Linked DNA regions of Homo sapiens: regions 2 and 3 are each linked to region 1. The links come from fine-mapping of genetic effects on gene expression. A gene starts in region 1. Each other region holds a variant in brackets. All regions are shown on one strand. Distances are from middle to middle.

What was found. PIP is the estimated chance that this variant, and not a neighbour inherited with it, causes the effect. A credible set is the group of variants that fine-mapping cannot tell apart.
Region 2: its variant is the best candidate, but not a certain one, in a credible set for the expression of SAV1 in thyroid (GTEx, PIP 0.86).
Region 3: its variant is the best candidate, but not a certain one, in a credible set for the expression of SAV1 in regulatory T cells (Bossini-Castillo 2019, PIP 0.68).

What each region holds. Positions count from the first base shown.
Region 1 is chr14:50,665,869-50,671,347 of GRCh38, forward strand. SAV1 (salvador family WW domain containing protein 1) reads right to left here and starts at 2,438. Exons shown (of 5, transcript NM_021818.4): 1 at 2,006-2,438. The coding sequence starts at 2,099. RefSeq lists an enhancer at 1,436-1,505 and silencers at 1,866-1,995, 2,106-2,675.
Region 2 is chr14:50,701,849-50,707,327 of GRCh38, forward strand. It overlaps the pseudogene ZFP64P1. Among named protein-coding and RNA genes, the nearest start is that of SAV1, 36 kb to the left of the region's middle. The variant G/A (reference allele first, on the strand shown) is at 3,356.
Region 3 is chr14:50,495,581-50,501,059 of GRCh38, forward strand. The region is part of intron 3 of MAP4K5 (mitogen-activated protein kinase kinase kinase kinase 5); the gene reads right to left. Among named protein-coding and RNA genes, the nearest start is that of MAP4K5, 34 kb to the right of the region's middle. The variant G/A (reference allele first, on the strand shown) is at 3,147.

The DNA of each region.
Region 1 (5,479 bases):
ATTCTGCATACTACCATACATAATATGATAAAATATCAATAATCTTATCTATGAACTACACATTAATGAAATGCTCATGAATTAATGTATAAAAATAGGAAATAATATAACAAATTGATAGTTTCTAGTTAAGTAGTTTATTTTGTTGTTCTCACTTCATTTTAGAAACTGCCAAAAATCCTTCTTGAAGCAAACACAATTTCAAAAATAGAACTTAATGCTACTCCCAAATATGTAAAAGTGGATTCCTTTAAAAATTAAAAAATTAGTAGCTCTTTCTTCTCTTGGAATTACCTAGCACTAGCACAGTAATCAAAAGCTAGAAAGCCAAAAATTTATGTATGAAAATTGAAAATAAAAAGCTCTCATTTCAAAGAAGCACACAAATGTAGAAGTGGCTCAAAAAACCAAGCCTGAAACTATGTAATTATAATTCAAAATAGTAGATAATAGAACAACAGCTTTTAGGATACAGTACTTTTAAACACGAAACTTGAAAACAGCTTAAGACATTCCCAGTTAGAAAGCAAATACCTTTAAAACAAGACAAAAACCTGAATATGCAGACCCTCTTATTATTCATCAAGTAAACAATATTGGAGACACTCATATTAATAAGCTTCAGAAACTAACACTGGACAGAAACAAATATCTGAATAAATAAGGCTCAACACTTGATGTAACGACAACAAAACAAAGTAGATCAAAAGTTATTTGCTTAACTGTGACAAACATTAACAAAACTGCACGTTCTACACATGTACCCCAGAACTTAAAGTATAATAAAAAGTGTGACAAACATAATTCACGATTTCAAGTAATGTCTGATAAACTTTATTTGCAGCAAACAGCAAGCTATCACTTAAAAACAGCCAGAAACCTAACTGCATGTGTGACTGAAAATCAAGTTGTTAAAAAAAAAAAAAAACAACTTAAAAATCAAGTTTCGAGTTACTGATGTACTCAACTGACATATATTTTGTTGAAAGTATTGCAAGTACCACCATAAATCTGGAAGGCTGACAATGTGGTTATGATGGAAAAACATGCTCTCCCATCTGTGTGATCTTGGGCAAATACTAGAAACCTAACTTTCCCAATTACAATATGAGGTAATACTTAAGTCACAAGGTTACTACCAGCTTCCAAGAAGGAAACTTAAGCAAAGGGCCCAGGGCGCAGTAAGAGCACCAAAATACCAGCTCCATGCCTCACAAATGTCCTGAACACACAAGAATTAAAAATTCAAGAGATTCAACTCAAAAATCAAATACTTACATTAAGAAGAAAAGCAGCGGGGGACCGGAGGTGGGGATTGGGAGTGGGATCTACCCTATTAAAAAAAAAAACTTTTCGAGGGGGGGGTTCTCTAATACGATAGAAATTATTTTGAGTTGCCTTCTTGGAATCTCACGAATATAGCCAAATACAAAGGCTTTTGGCTCTCTGCTCTGCTGTGTAAGAGTGATGAGGCTTTGGGTGGCGGCTACAAGAACGACGGTATGCTTTTCACCTTCTCAAGTCTGCATCCGGCAGCAGGACTAAGGAATTCTGCCCCAGAGTTCGCACAACTTGCAGCACAGTCGAGAGACACCCGCAATGTTTGCAAACATGACGCACATCTCGACGCATCTAAAAGAGTAAAAAGTGTCCCTGTCTAATTACTTTTACTCCTATAGCATTAGGTGATAAGCAATTTAAATGTTTCCTACTCTCTCTTCCAGTAATCAAAACCAACAACTCTGCCTGGTGGGGCGAGGAAGTCTGTTATTTTTAGGGGGTGCTCTTGGGGGGGTTAGGCGCGGGGGGGACTAACCCAAGTTTCTTACTCTTATGGGCTTTCAATCAACGAATACCACTTCAGACACAAGAAAATCTCAAAACCAGTATTTCACGCGACCAAGGACGAAGGAGAAGCCCTGGAGACCCGCCGGCGCCCCCGCCAGGGTCCCCGGAGCACCTGGCCGCCTGGGCCAGGTGTGGGCACGCCCCGCCTGACACTCACTCCGAAGCAGAGGCGACGTCTCCTTCTTCACGTACTTCCCCTGCACCTCGGCCGGCTTGGACACTTCGTTTTTGGTTTTCTTTCGGGACAGCATCCTTCTCGACGAGGCCCGAGGCCGCGCTGAACTGCCTCCCTAGGGCTCCGCGCCGGGCGCCGGCCGTCTCCGCCGCCACCTCCGCCGGCGCCGCCGCCTCCTTCCCTCCCGAGCCGCCGCCTCCGCCGCCGCCTGTCCGGAGCCCGGGGTCGCCCGCAGGGACTGCCGCATGTTCAGGGCGCTAAGCGCGCCGGCCGCCGCTCAGTCGCTGGTCAGTTCCTTCCCGGAAGTCGGCCCGCTCTGCGACGCTGCTCGGGGACGCCGTGAGGAAAGCCCAGCGACGCCGGGCCAGGGCCAGGGCCATGGTCCGCCGCGGGCCGCCGAATAACCGCTACCACTACCGCCGCCGCCGCCTACATCCCGTAAACTTTCCCCGCGGCCGCTGGGAATTCTGGGAAGCTCGACGCAGCGCGGGCCGCCGCTGCCCCTCCCCCACCGCGGCTCCAGGCGCGGCTCCGGCGGCGGGACTCGGGTGCCGGCGCTCTAGGCTACCGGGCCGTCCCCGCCGAGCTGCGGCTGTCCTCACTCATCCTCAGCGAGAAGCAGGTCCTGCCGACTGAGAAGATGAAGGACGAAACCTGCCCCGCTGAGTGCGGGAGTTCGTCGCATGCGCATGTCGTGGAACCTACTCTCCACGAGTTTTTATTGTTGTTGCTTTTGTACCCCCTCGGGATCCCTAGCGGAGGCAGTGACTCTCTTTCCCCCCAAGACGTTGTTCCCTGTTTGAAGGTGTTCTTCCTAATGTTTCCTAGGCTGCTGAATTCAGCTCTCTAAAAAATGCGGAATGCTAACCATGACTCCCAGGCAAGTGCTACACCAAAGCATCTATTCTGCTGGAAACGTTCATGCTGATTAACTAGAAATAAGTTGATCCTCTACTGAGTATCAGGGAGTGCGTTTTTCTATAACAGGAAAAAACGGAAGAATGCAAGATGGAATTTCCAGTACCTCTTTTTAAGATACAATTGGTGTTAGCATATTACAATTATTTTATTGCATCATCACTATCATTAGTATGATTAATAGCCACATATTTCCTCCTGACGTTATGTGTTATGATCTTAGAATTTTGAAGACTTTGACCACTGCGAGTCGGGACCGGGAATTTTCTATCTAAAATAATAGACTCTACTTCCTTCTATATAACTTAGCAAGACTGCCAAATGTACAGGATAACATTTGGAAAATAAGATTGGATTCATCCCCTAGTGACCAAATTAATGCTTTAATAATGAGGAATGCTTTCCCTGAGATCTAAAACATCTCACAAGAGATCTAAGACATATATCACAATTAACAAAAGACATGGAATTTTTTACCACGTAAGATTAAGAAGATGGTCAAATGTTTTACCATGAGCAAACAAAGGAGACATTTGATCTAGTGTCTGTCTCCATATGTTCCCTTGGTGCAGATCTCCCACAATTCATTCATTAACCAGGAAATACTCATTACCCACTGCGCTAGTCGTTTGTGATAGAGCAATAAGCAAAACAGACAAAAATCCCTACTGTCATGGGAAAGAGAAAAAAATGACAAAAAATAAGCAAAACATACTATGTTAGATAGTGATAAGTGATGAAGTGAAAATAAGAGAGGACTCACAATTTTTGAGAGGGTAATAGAGGGACCAGAGAAGGCTCATGAGGAGGTGACATTGGAGTTAAGTGACAGAGTGAGGAAATTGGCCATGCAGCTAACTGGAGGAACAATATTCCAGGCAGAAAGAACAGCAAGTGCAAAGTCGCTGCAAGTGGCCATGTTCCTGGCAGATTGGAGGAACAGTAAGAGGGTTTATGTACTGGAAAAGACGGGGAGACGAATGGGGAATGCAGTTAGAGAGTAACAATAGCCACGGCACCTAGGGCTTTGTAGGCCATTGTAAGGAATGTTACTTTGAGCAGAGGAGTGACATGATCTGAGTTAATGTTTTCATAGGACTGCTTTGGATGCTGTGTGGAGAGTAGACAATGGAGCTAAGGGCAAAAGGGAGATCAGTCAGAAGTTATTGCTGGCTTGGACCCAGGCAATAATAGGTGGAGAGGTAAGTGGACATATTTTAGACATATTTTAAAGAAAGCCAACCAAATTTGCTGACATTGAATATGGAGTGTGGGAGTATCAATCACTGCCATGGGTATGAAAATCTTAATAAACAGAATTGGAACTCACTAGAAGCAGAGTGTACTCTGAGAGAAACATTAGAAAAACAGTTACTTGTTCCTGTGGTTCAGAAATAAGGACGAGTCCTAAAGCGTTGATAGTGTGCAGGGAGAAGAAAGAGTGATGAAACTTAAGTGAGAGCACAATGGGGTTTTGTTACACATCAGGGTATGAAGGCGGGAGCTGAAGGAGGAAGGGGGAGCCAAAGAAGTGCCAGGTTTCTGCCTAAGGCTTACCTCAGAGAAGGACAAAAGGATATTAGCATCTTGTTAATAAAGGCAACTCTTCACACCTGGAGTTTTCCCAGAGCCTGAAGTACGGGGACACCTTTCACATGTGCGGAGGAAAGAATCCTAGAATTTTATAGTTGAAAAAGAATTCTGAGATTGCCTAGGCTCACCTCATCAACATCAAAAAGGAACGAGAAAAATTAAGTGTTTTGTCTCAGATTACATTCCTGGTTAATGACAGAATAGCATCAGAACTGGAGTTTTCAATTCCCTTTTTTTCCCCCCTGAGGCAGAGTCTTGCTCTATCCCTCAGGCAGGAGTGCAGTAGCACTATCTCAGCTCACTGCAACTGCTGCCTCTCAGGTTCAAGCGATCCTCCTACCTTGGCCTCCTGACTAGCTAGGATTACAAGCGCCCGCCACCACACCTGGCTATTTTTTGTATTTTTAGTAGAGACTGGATTTCATCATGTTGGCCAGGCTGGTCCCGAACTCCTGGCCTCAAGTGATCTGCCCGCCTCGGCCTCCCAAAGTGCTGCAATTGTAGGCGTGAGCCACCAGGCCAGCCTCAATTTCCGTTTGGGGCTCTTTACTGCTACGGAACATTCAGAATCCCACTAATGTGAGTCCAGACTGTTTCTAACAGTTGTTTTGAAAGCCGTCTGTGTTCCTTAGAGAGTACTCCCTTTTACAATGCTATTTAATTTCTGTGGATTATAGCAGAGAGAAAGCCTTAATTAGGTGCTCTATTTAAGACAACTAATTTGCCTTTTTATCAAGGAGGGTACATTCCAGAATCAACAATGTGCAGGCAGCATTAGCTATAGCAATGCACAACAAATATGTGAACTTTGAATTTGAATCCTTAAATCTAAAAGCTTTGAATTCATGTTTGTTTTCTAGAAATTCCTTGACTTCTGAGAATTTTTATTAAGGAATTCAGATTTGCTGTAGTTCTACGGAGCTGTAATTCTCCAGACATTGCCTT
Region 2 (5,479 bases), 36 kb after region 1:
AGAGCCATTGCTCAGTTTGGGCAATGGGAGTGAAACCCTGTTTCAGAGGCAATCTGGCTACATTTTGGTAGAGCGGTTGTGCTGTGCTGGGGGTCTCCTTCAGTGCCGGACACTCCAAAGCTCAAAGGCCAGAATAGCTAAGTGACCCAAACAGCGAAGATGATGGCCTGCACCTCCATCTGGGAGCTCCAGCCTGGGGAGGCTTGAAACTTCTCTCAGCTGAAGAACACTCGTGGGGATAGCTTCAGACCCTTCCTGGTGATCAGGAGTAGGATCAGGGACCTGCTTGAAAAAGCAGTCTGGCTGTGTTTTGGTAGGGCAGCTGTGCTGTGCTGGGGATCCACTTCAGCCCCTGGTCATCTTGGACTCTCCAAAGTCCAAAGGCTAGAATAGCTAAGTTACCCAAACAGTAAAGATGGTGGCCCACCCTTCCCTCTGGGATTTCTGTCCCAGGAAGTTTTCAAATCTGTGTTTGCCAGACAGCACTGGTGGGGGTGGCTGGAGGCCCCAGTTGAGAATTCCTGCCCAGTGAGGAGGAACAGAATTGGGGACCGGCTTAAAAAAGCAGTCTGGCCATGTTTCACAGGGCAGCTGTACTGTGCCGGGGTACTGCTTCTGCCTGGTCAGAGGTTGACTTGGACTCTCCAAAGCCTAAAGACTAGAAATACTATCACCCAAACAGCAAAGATAGCAGCCCACCCCTCCCGCTGGGAGCTCCATCCCAGGGAGGCTCCAAATCTCTGTTGGCTGGAGAACATGGGCGCAGGTGGCTGGAGGCTCTGGTGATCCTGCCCAGTGAGGAGGGATTGGGGACCTGCTTAAAAGAGCAGTCTGACCACGTTTTATAAAGCAGCTGTGCTGGGGCATCCCTTCCGCCCCTGGTCAGCTTAGACTCTCCAAAGCTTGGAGGCTGGAACGGCTAAGTTGCCCAAACAGCAAAGATGGCAGCCCACCCTTCCCTGCTGGAGTTTTATCCCAGGGAGGTGCAATGCTGCTACCAGTGGCTGTCTGGAGTTCTAAGCCAGTGGGTCTTCATCTTGTGAGGTTTGTGGAAGTGGGGCCTGCAGATTGTCACTGCTCAGCCCCCTGGATTCAGCCTTTTTCCTAAGGATATGTACAGAGGTCAAACCTCCCGCTTTGCTGGAGTTGCAACTACTTTTGCTGGGAAGTCTGGAGAGTCCGAGTATCAAGGCTTTCCTGGGTCTCCACATGTGCCTGAGTGGCTGTTCTGTTGAGACTCCATGTAGCTGTGTGTGTCAGTCAGAAGGCCCTGGTGGAGTGGGTTCACAAGGAGATCTCCTGACCCAAGGATTGCAAAGATCCATGGGAGAAGCATGGGTTCCTGGGGTTGTACATTCATGTGCCACTACCCAGGGTCGGGGGAGGTTCCCTTGGCTCCATGTTGCTCCTGGGTGGGCCATCATCCTGCCTTACTTTTCTCCATCCTCCATGGGTCAAGTTGCTTCCTTGATTAGTCCCAATGTGAGTAACTAGATGTTTAAGTTGAAGGTGCTGTATTTACTTGCTCTTTCTGTTCCTCTCCATGAGAGCTACGTATATTACCTGCTTCTAGTCAACCATCTTGGCCACCTCCAGCACCTAGGATCCTTTAAAATGTATTGAAACTTGTTTTATACCCCCGAACGTGGCTGATCTTTGTTAATTTTCCATGTGTTCTTAAAAAGAATGTGTATTCTGCTGCTGCTGTTGAGTGGAATGTTTTATAACAAGTTTGTTGTCAATGTTCAATTCTTCTACATCTGTGGTAGGCAAATTAAATATCACACAAAGATTTCCATGTCTGAATCTTTAGAAGTTGTGAGTATGTTATTTCAGTTGACAAAAGGGATTTTGCAGACATGATTCAGGTTAAGGAAACTTAGATGGATATTTAGATGAAGCCTAGGTTGTCCAGGTGGGTCCAGTCTAATCACATGAGTTTTTTTGTTTTTGATTTTGTTTTAACCTATGAGTCTGCCTTTTTATTGCAAGACAACAGGTAGAAGAAACCACACAAACATATAAGGCAAACACTCTTAGAACGATCATCCAGGTTATGAAATAGAAGTTTTCCAGCAATCCCAGACTCTTCATGTACACCTTCTTCACTTTAACCTGTCCCACTATAGAGATTAGTTTTAGTTTTCTATATCATCTAACTAGTTTAATAATTCCATCAGAGATGGATCAGTTTAAAAATTGGAATCTGTTACATAGAAGCTATCCGCATTGGATAGAGCAGGGCTCAGCAGACCCTACGTTTGAATGACTAAGTTGACTTGCTCAGATTGTCCTGGGAGGGAAGACACAAATGCAAGAAGTGTCTCCATAGTACTGCTTTGCTTTTATCATTGTCATCTCAGCCATCGCCTCTGGAGGCCTGTGAAATTGGAGCAGCCAGCCCTGGAAGTGGTGCCCAAAGCCTGTCTCACTGGCTTCATCTTTTGGAGGGGTGGGCAACAGCATTTGTCAGAAATCTTGACAGCTGAGGATCCTTTTCCTCTGAGCTAGAGGTCTTGGCTGGGCTCCAGGGGAGGCTTGAGCTGCCCCACGGAGACCATGGTGCTGAGCTGTCCCGAGGCACAGCTTGCAGGTGGGAAGGCGACCAAGTCTGAGTCCTTGTTCTCACTCTGATCACTGTGCTGCTGCTTGTGGCATCTCAGAGTCATCCCTGACAAAGGCGGCGCCGCAGGTCTCACAGCGAAAGGCCCTCTGCCTCACGATCTTGGCCACGTGTCGGGAGCTGCTCTGTGAGCCCTTCCTTGCCCGGAGAGGCCCAGTTCTCTGTCTTGGCCTCATCCTTGTGCACCCTGTCGATGCGCTTGGCCAGGCTGCTGGGCCACTTCGCGTCGGAGCTGCAGAAGTCACACTTGAAGTTTCAGTCCTTACAGTGGACTCCGCTGTGTATGCACAGGGCGGCTGCGCTGGAGCAGGAGTTGCACTCAGGACACTTCTCTGGGTGGTCGGCCTGGTGCAGCCAGCTATGCTCCAGGAAGTCAGCCCATCCTGGCCCTGGAAGGCACAGTGCAGACACTTGAAGGTGTGCTTGATGCGGATGTGCGATTTGAGATTCGCCTTCATGGTGCAGCGGACGTCGCTGCAGAACTCGCACTCGAAAGGCTTCTCCCCCAGTGCACGATCATGTGCCTTTTCAAGTCTGAGCTGATTTTGAACTTGGCGCTACAGAGCCAGCACTGGAAGGAGATATCCCCAGTGTGGGATCGCAGGTGGACGGTGAGCTGGCTGGAGTTGCGGCTGACATAGGGGCAGAGCTGGCATTTGTATGGCTGCTCGTCCGAGTGGATCCGTAGGTGCTTCTTGAGGCTCCTGCTGTCCACGGCAGCATAGTCACACA[G/A]GTAACACTCGTGCGGCATCACATGTGCATGGTCAGGTTGTCCTTCCGCTGAAGCACTTGTCACAGAACTCACACTTGAGCGGTTCGTCACCCGTTGTGGATTCTGAGATAGCGGTCCAAGTCTTTCATGCCATGGAGAGTTTTGAAGTGGCAACCTGGGTAGCAACAGTCGAATGTCCTCTCTCCAAGGGCGGCTGTTTCTTCCCTTGACTCTGAGGGAAGAGTGATGACAGGGGCCTTCTGCTTTCAGTCACTGCTTTCAGTGGAGAGGCAGGTTGCTTTTGGAATATCATTATCCAGTTCTGAAGCTGCACAACTCGCTCCTTCCCATCCTTCGGGCCTTCACTCGAAGGTCCGCTCCTTGGTGAGGATTTCCCTGGACAACGCATTTGAAACCTAACCCCAGGGCAGGGAGCCACCTTCCAGGTGCGCAGCCGAAGCCCAGTGCCAAGGAGGCCGGGGACTTGGGTGCCCGCGTACACCGAAAACAGTCTCTGAGGGGTCCTCAGAGCATCTTTCCAGCATGTTTTTAACAGCAGAGAAACTTTCCCAGCTCTAATCAGAGGGAGAGGTCATTATGGAAAAAGGGTCAGAAATATAATGTTGTTGACTTATAAAGATGGAAAAAGGAGGCCATGAGCCAAAAAGTGTAAGTGACCTCTAGAAGCTAGAAAAGACAAAGAAGTAGAAACGAATGTACCTTGCTGACATCTTGGGTGTGTGTGTGTGTGTGTGTGTGTGTGTGCGCGCACGTATGTTTCTCAATGAAATGTTAAACTTCGAGCCTGTAGTACTATAAAATAATAAATCTGTATTTTTAAATGACTAAATTCTTGGTAATTTGTTGCAGCACCAAGAGAAAACTAATACATTTGCCAACGTAGTTGGCATTTCTTGTGAGTGTGTGTGTGAGTGTGTGTGTGAGTGTGAGTGTGTGTATGGATGTTTCTTTAGATTCACATTTCTAATTGGTATCACTCTGTAATTTTTTAAACACTTACAGTGGAGGTCTACTAGCAATGTAATATTTCAGCTTATGTCTGAAAGTTCCTATTTCACCTTCATTTTTTGAAGATATCTTCGTTGGGTAAAGAATTTGAGGCGGCCGGGCGCTGTGGCTCACGCCTGTAATCCCAGCACTTTGGGAGGCCAAGGCGGGCGGATCACGAGGTCAGGAGATCGAGACCATCCCGGCTAAAACGGTGAAACCCCGTCTCTACTAAAGATACAAAAAATTAGCTGGGCGTGGTGGCGGGCGCCTGTAGTCCCAGCTACTTGGGAGGCTGAGGCAGGAGAATGGCGTGAACCCGGGAGGCGGAGCTTGCAGTGAGCCGAGATCCCGCCACTGCACTCCAGCCTGGGCGACAGAGCGAGACTCCGTCTCAAAAAAAAAAAAAAAAAAGAATTTGAGGCTAGTTTCATTTCCTTCAGTACTGTATAGATGCAATATTTTCTTGCATTCTTTCTGATGAAAAATCTGTCATCTTTATTTTTGTTTCTCTGTACATAATGTATCTGTTTCTCTAGCTGCTGAAAAATGAGTGGGATTTATATTTCAAACAATGGTTTAAGGTACTACAAAAAGGTAATTTTTGGTGAAAAATGGATCAACTAATACTAGGTTGACCAAAGATCTGATTTGTCTGTATATATACTATATATCATATATATAGTAATTGTATATGTAATTATATGTGAATATATAGTAATGGTTCTCAAAATTTTTGGTCTTAGGATTACTTTGTACTCTTATAAACTATTGAGGACCTCAGAGATTTTGCTTATGTGAATTATATCTAGCAACATTTATCATGTTAGAAGAGAAAAACTTTAAAGTATTTATATATTTTAAAATACTGAAAATAAGCCTATTTCATGTTTAACACCATAACATACTTTCATGAGAAATAAACATATATTCCAAAACAAAGTATTTGAGAAGAGCTGTGAAGAAATCTCTTAAATGTCTGGCTTAATAGAGAGTAGCTGAATTATCCCATTTGTTTCTGCATTTGTTCTGTTTTATCATGTATCATTTTGGTTGAAGTATATGGAAAAAAACCTGATCTCACAGAGGCAAGTACTGTAGTTAGAAAAGGGAAAAGTATTTTAATCTTTTTTGAT
Region 3 (5,479 bases), 170 kb before region 1:
AAATAGGATCTCAAAGAGAGATTTGTACACCCATGTTCATAGCAGCACTATTTACAATAGCCAAGAGGTAGAGGCAACCCAGTTTGACAGAATGTCTATTGACAGATGAATGAATAAAACTGTAGTATATGAAAACCATGCAGACTTAAAAAGGAAGGAAATCCTGTCATATGCTATAACATAGATGAACCTTGAGAACATTATGCTAAGTGAAACAGCCTAGTCAGAAAAGGACAAATACTGTATGATTCCACTTATATAAAGTATCTAAAGGAGCCAAATTCATAGATACCAACAGTAGAATGGTGGTTACTAGTGGCTGTGGGGAGGCAGCAAAGAGTTGTTGTTGTTTAATGAATATAGAGTTTTAGTTTTGCAAGATGAAAAATTCTAGACAACTATTTCACAACAACGCAAATATAGTTAAAACTACTAAAAGATGCACTTAAAAATGGTAAAGACAGCTGGGCATGGTGGCTCACATCTGTAATCCCAGCACTTTTGGAGGCCGAGGCAGGTGGATCATCTGAGGTCAGGAGTTCAAGACCAGCCTGGCCAACATGGTGAAACCCTGTCTCTACCAAAAACATAAAAAATTAGTCGGGTGTCGTGGTGGGAGCCTGTAATCCCAGGTACTCGGGAGGCTGAGGCAGGAGAATGGCTTGATCCCGGGAGGTGGAGGTTGCAGTGAGCCAAGATTGTGCCATTGCACTCCACCCGGGGTGCCAAGAGCAAGACTCCAACTCAACAAAAACAAAACAAAAAGCAAAAAAACAAAAATGGTTAAGATGGTAAAGTTTATGTGTTTTTTACTGAAATTTTAAAAATATTAAAATGATGTGAGCATAGCCTAATTTAATCATTTCACTACAGCTGGATGTTTAAATGAATATATATATACACACACACATATATTATTATATATATATTTCTTTCTTTCTTTTTTGGGACAGGATTTCATTCTGTTGCCCATGGTGCAACGCAGTGATGTGAACATGGTTCATTGAAGCCTCAACCTCCTGGGCTCAAGTGATCCTCCTGCCTCAGTGTCCTGAGTAGCTGGGACTACAGAAGCAGGCTGCCGTGCTCTGCTAATTTTTAAAAATTTTTGTAAAGACTGGGTCTTATCATGTTGCCCAGGCTGGTCTTGAACTCCTGGGCTCAAAAGATCCTCCCACCTCAGCCTCCCAAAGTGCTGAGACTACAACAGGTGTGAACCACCGCTCCCAGACCAAAAAAATAAAAATAAAAATAAAAATAAAAATAAAAACTTTTAAAACAAGTATTTAAAATAAATATGCAGTAACCTAAAAATTTGTATATCATTTAGAGCAAAATTACAATGTAAAAATTAGATCTCTTAATTAATATTTGCAATGGCAAAAGTTTTCTGTATTAGTAAGTACTAGATACATTTCTGAAGTTTATGAAATAATGTTAAAGATAGTTATCAAAACGAAAACTAATTTTAGCGGTAGTTCATTATACAGTGAATAAATTAGCAGTACTTTTTCAGAAAATCAATCCAATGCTAAATATTCAATCAGCTAATTTTTAAATAACTATGAAAAATACAGTGACACAATGGTGGCAATCTTGTGAATATGGTTGTTTTGGTTCATAATAAGTAAATATGGTTTTTTTCCATTGAGCATAATGAATGTACAATGTTAAACAGAAGACATTAGTAAACAACACTAACCTTTATTCATTTTCTGTATCTATTATTTAAAACCAATAAAATGACATTTGGGGCATGTATTTGTGCCTTCAAATTAACATTTTCCATTAATTCAGACTTGAACTGTCCAAACAGTGAAGACAGGATACAAATATTTTACTTTACAGAATATTTTTAAAAATCAAGATTGTTAGGTTTTTGAATAGAAAGTCTGAAAAGAACATACCACGTAACCTGAATAGATGACACTTGTCCTATTTGGCCAAACAGCCTACCCTGGGATTTCTTTCAAGAACTTTGCCAAGTTCTTTCAAGAACAAGGCAAACTAATGGCTGGTTTAAACCTCCGTATAGTTCCTGACTTTTTAACACTTACACTACCTTCTCTGCTTATACTTTCAGGAAACAAGTTAAAGTATTCCCTGCAAGTCCAAGGAAAGCTTTAAACATCTATTCAAAGATATTTAAAGATTCCTATTTATTTCAAAAACTGTCTAAAGAAACACATTTAACTTATTTTATTAAAAAATACTAAACTATTTTATAAGTATTTCCGATTTACCGTTTTAAAAGACAAGCAAGGGAACAAACCAAAAGGGTATTGCATTAATCATCCTGGGTAGTGATGTATTAAATTACATCCCTGTAAGCAAGGCCGAAAATATTTAAATAAACTGTAATTTTCATAAGCTTAAAATATTATTTTGTAGTTTTGCCATAAAAGAGGGGTAATGGAAGGAGGAGAGAGGGAAGGGAAAGTAGGATTCTGATGGTAAGTTTTCCCACAAACTTTGTTCCTGCTCTGGCTGTTGGCCACCAATAGCTACAGACTTGTTGGGCAAACTGAGCATCTGTAAAATGAGTTAGATGGTAGGCTGAAATTCAGACAGAAGACAGGAAAACATGGTGGCATGAACCATCACAGTATCTGCCTGGGCTTATAGGGCACTCTGGATGTCTAATCAAAGAGATGAAAAATGCAACTAAAACTCACAATGGTATCACTGGTGGTATTATTTTCAATGCTAATCACTGGTAAGTCAAACTCTATTTAATGTTACCATTTGTAAGGTGGTGACTTTAGTAAGTATCTACTATAAAAATGAGATAGAAATGGTTAAATCATTCCTGAAAATAATCATTTTGCCTATATATACAAAGAGCAACAAGAACATACAAACATAGGAAGGAATGCTGACTTCATTTTCTTTTACAAATATTTTTGTGGCTAATTAATAAACGCGATTTTCTGTGCTAACCTATTTTCAACTCTAAGGCTTACTGTAGCATTTTTTTGACTATTAGGAAGACCTTCAAAAGCAATCTGTTTCAGCAAAATTTTGAATATAGCATTATAAAATTAAATTGCCAGGGGCAAGTCAGTAAATACAATTTAGGACTCTAAAATTACTATAAACTTTAATATCCTATTTTTCACCATGGAGAAAAGCATGTTAAGTTTACA[G/A]CTGGAATTTCATTTACTTAAAAAAATTTTTGTTTATGTATTACCAGACATAAGTTTTTTTCTAAGTCACACTGGCAAATAATTATCTTTTCATGTCTAAATACAATTTTAAACCAGTTCATCTGTTAAATCAATACAAGAAAGCACTTTTGTATTATGCTGGCTTTAGTGCAAGTTTTTGAAAGCTGCTAAATACAGTTGAGAATTCATTTTTGAAATACAGCAGTCTCCAAAATTATTTGAAGTATCTGAACTGAATGTTGGGAAAATTCATTAGCATACCATCATATTTTTAACCTAAAGATACCCTTAAGTCTGTTCCAAAAATGTGAAAAATACCATCTACTTTGGCTTTACTGACAATGCTAAAAGTCCACTGATTTTCCACAAAAATTCCACAGCAAAAAAAAAAAGACAAATACAGGATGCTGAAGATACGAAGAATTTGTTTTGAAAGAAAATTTAAGACAACAGTGCTTCAAACTCTCAGGGATATGAAAGGGGGAAAAAAGAGTACAGGAAAATTAAGGCAACAAAATGAAACAGAAAGAATGCTGGTAGAGTTAAGGGGGGAAAGCTGTGTAAAAATAATACTTATATAGAACTAATAAAAACATTGGAACCAACAAGGAATAGAAGCAGTATTGGGGGCCAGGCATGGTGGTTCACATCTGTAATCCCAGCACTTTGGGAGGCCTAGACGGGCAGATCACTTGAGGCCAGGAGTCCAAGACCAACCTGGACAACATGGCGAAACTCTGTCTCTACTAAAAATACAAAAATTAGCTGGGTGTGGTGGCACATGCCTGTAATTCCAGCTACTCAGGAGGCTGAGGCACGAGAATCACTTGAACCCGGTTGGCAAAGGTTGCAGTGAGCCCAGATTGTGCCACTGCACTCCAGCCTGGGCAACAGAAAGAGACCCTGTTTAAAAAAAAAAAAAAGTCACTGATATGGAAGACTTTAAAAATTCATTACTTTCCAAAGTAATGAAATAAATTCAAGAATCTTAAAACAAAGTTTCTTGAAATAAAGAAAAAATCAAAACTGCAGATGAAAAAAGCAGCTCATTGTGTCTCAGGGAGAAAAATCTGTAGAAAATTATTGAGACCAAGTTATATTCTGTTGAGATTACTAATTTTGAAGACAAAGAAAGAAATGCCAGCTTTTGCTACAATCAGGTAGTAACAGCAAGTTATCTACCAGGGGAAAAATATCAGTTAGGCCTTACATTTCTTTCCAACAATATTCAAGGGAAAAAAATGTCTATAGAGTTTTTTGAGGGTAGAGGGAGAAGAACGTGTGATGCAATCATTTTATACCTAGTCAAATCGTCATTCTCATTCAAAGGCAACAGAAAGACATCTGTAATATTCTTTTATAGGAGGAATATTTATTGCAGTGTCCGTTACATGCTTACACTGTCCCAAGTGGTGAAATATAGCAGTGAGGATAGATAATCGCTATTCTCATTGATCTTACATTCTAGGAGAGAGACAAACACAATATATACACGTATACATATAAACAAACAAGAAAAGTATCAGGCACTCACGTGTCCTATGCAGCGAACTAAAATAACAAGGGCATTGGCCTCTCCGAGGATATGATATTTATTTAAGCTGAGGTCTGAATGACCAGGAGCCTTCAGAGCAAAGATCTTGAAAAACAGTTACCTCAGGCAAAAGGGAAGAATTGCTTTAATCTTGGACTGTTTAAATAAAAAGAAAACAGAGGCATAGTAGAGTAGGCAGAAACATATGCGATGAGCTCAGAGAGGTGGATAGAACAGATCATGTAGGGTTTTATAAACAAGGCTAAAAATCTGAGTATTTTTCTAAGTTGATATGAAAGCTTCAGGGAAGTGTTAAGCAGAAGTGATGATATGATTTATGTTTTTAAAAGTTCACTCCAGAGGCTTTCTGGAAAATAGATGGTGGGGAATGGGAGGTGTGGGCAAGGCAACAGGCACTAGAAGGGTGGAGATGGGTAACAAAGACAAGTAGATGGATTCAGGATGTGTTCTGGAGGTAGAGCTGAGGGAACTTGCTGACAGACTGATTCTTGAGCACAAATAAAAGAGAGAAATCGAGGTTAATGCCTACATTTGTGGATGGGTTAACTGCTTAGCAAAATGCAGAAGAAAAGCAGGTTTGAGAAGAATAATCAATTTATGGATTTAAATTATAATATTCCTAATACGGGAAAATCTTTTTGATAATATGACTTAGCCTATTGATAGTTGATACTAAGTAGGTGAGAATGGAAAGGAAATGGCATAAAAAGACCAATGGTGGGTAGTAAATCTACTAAATATAAAACTAAGTCTAAAT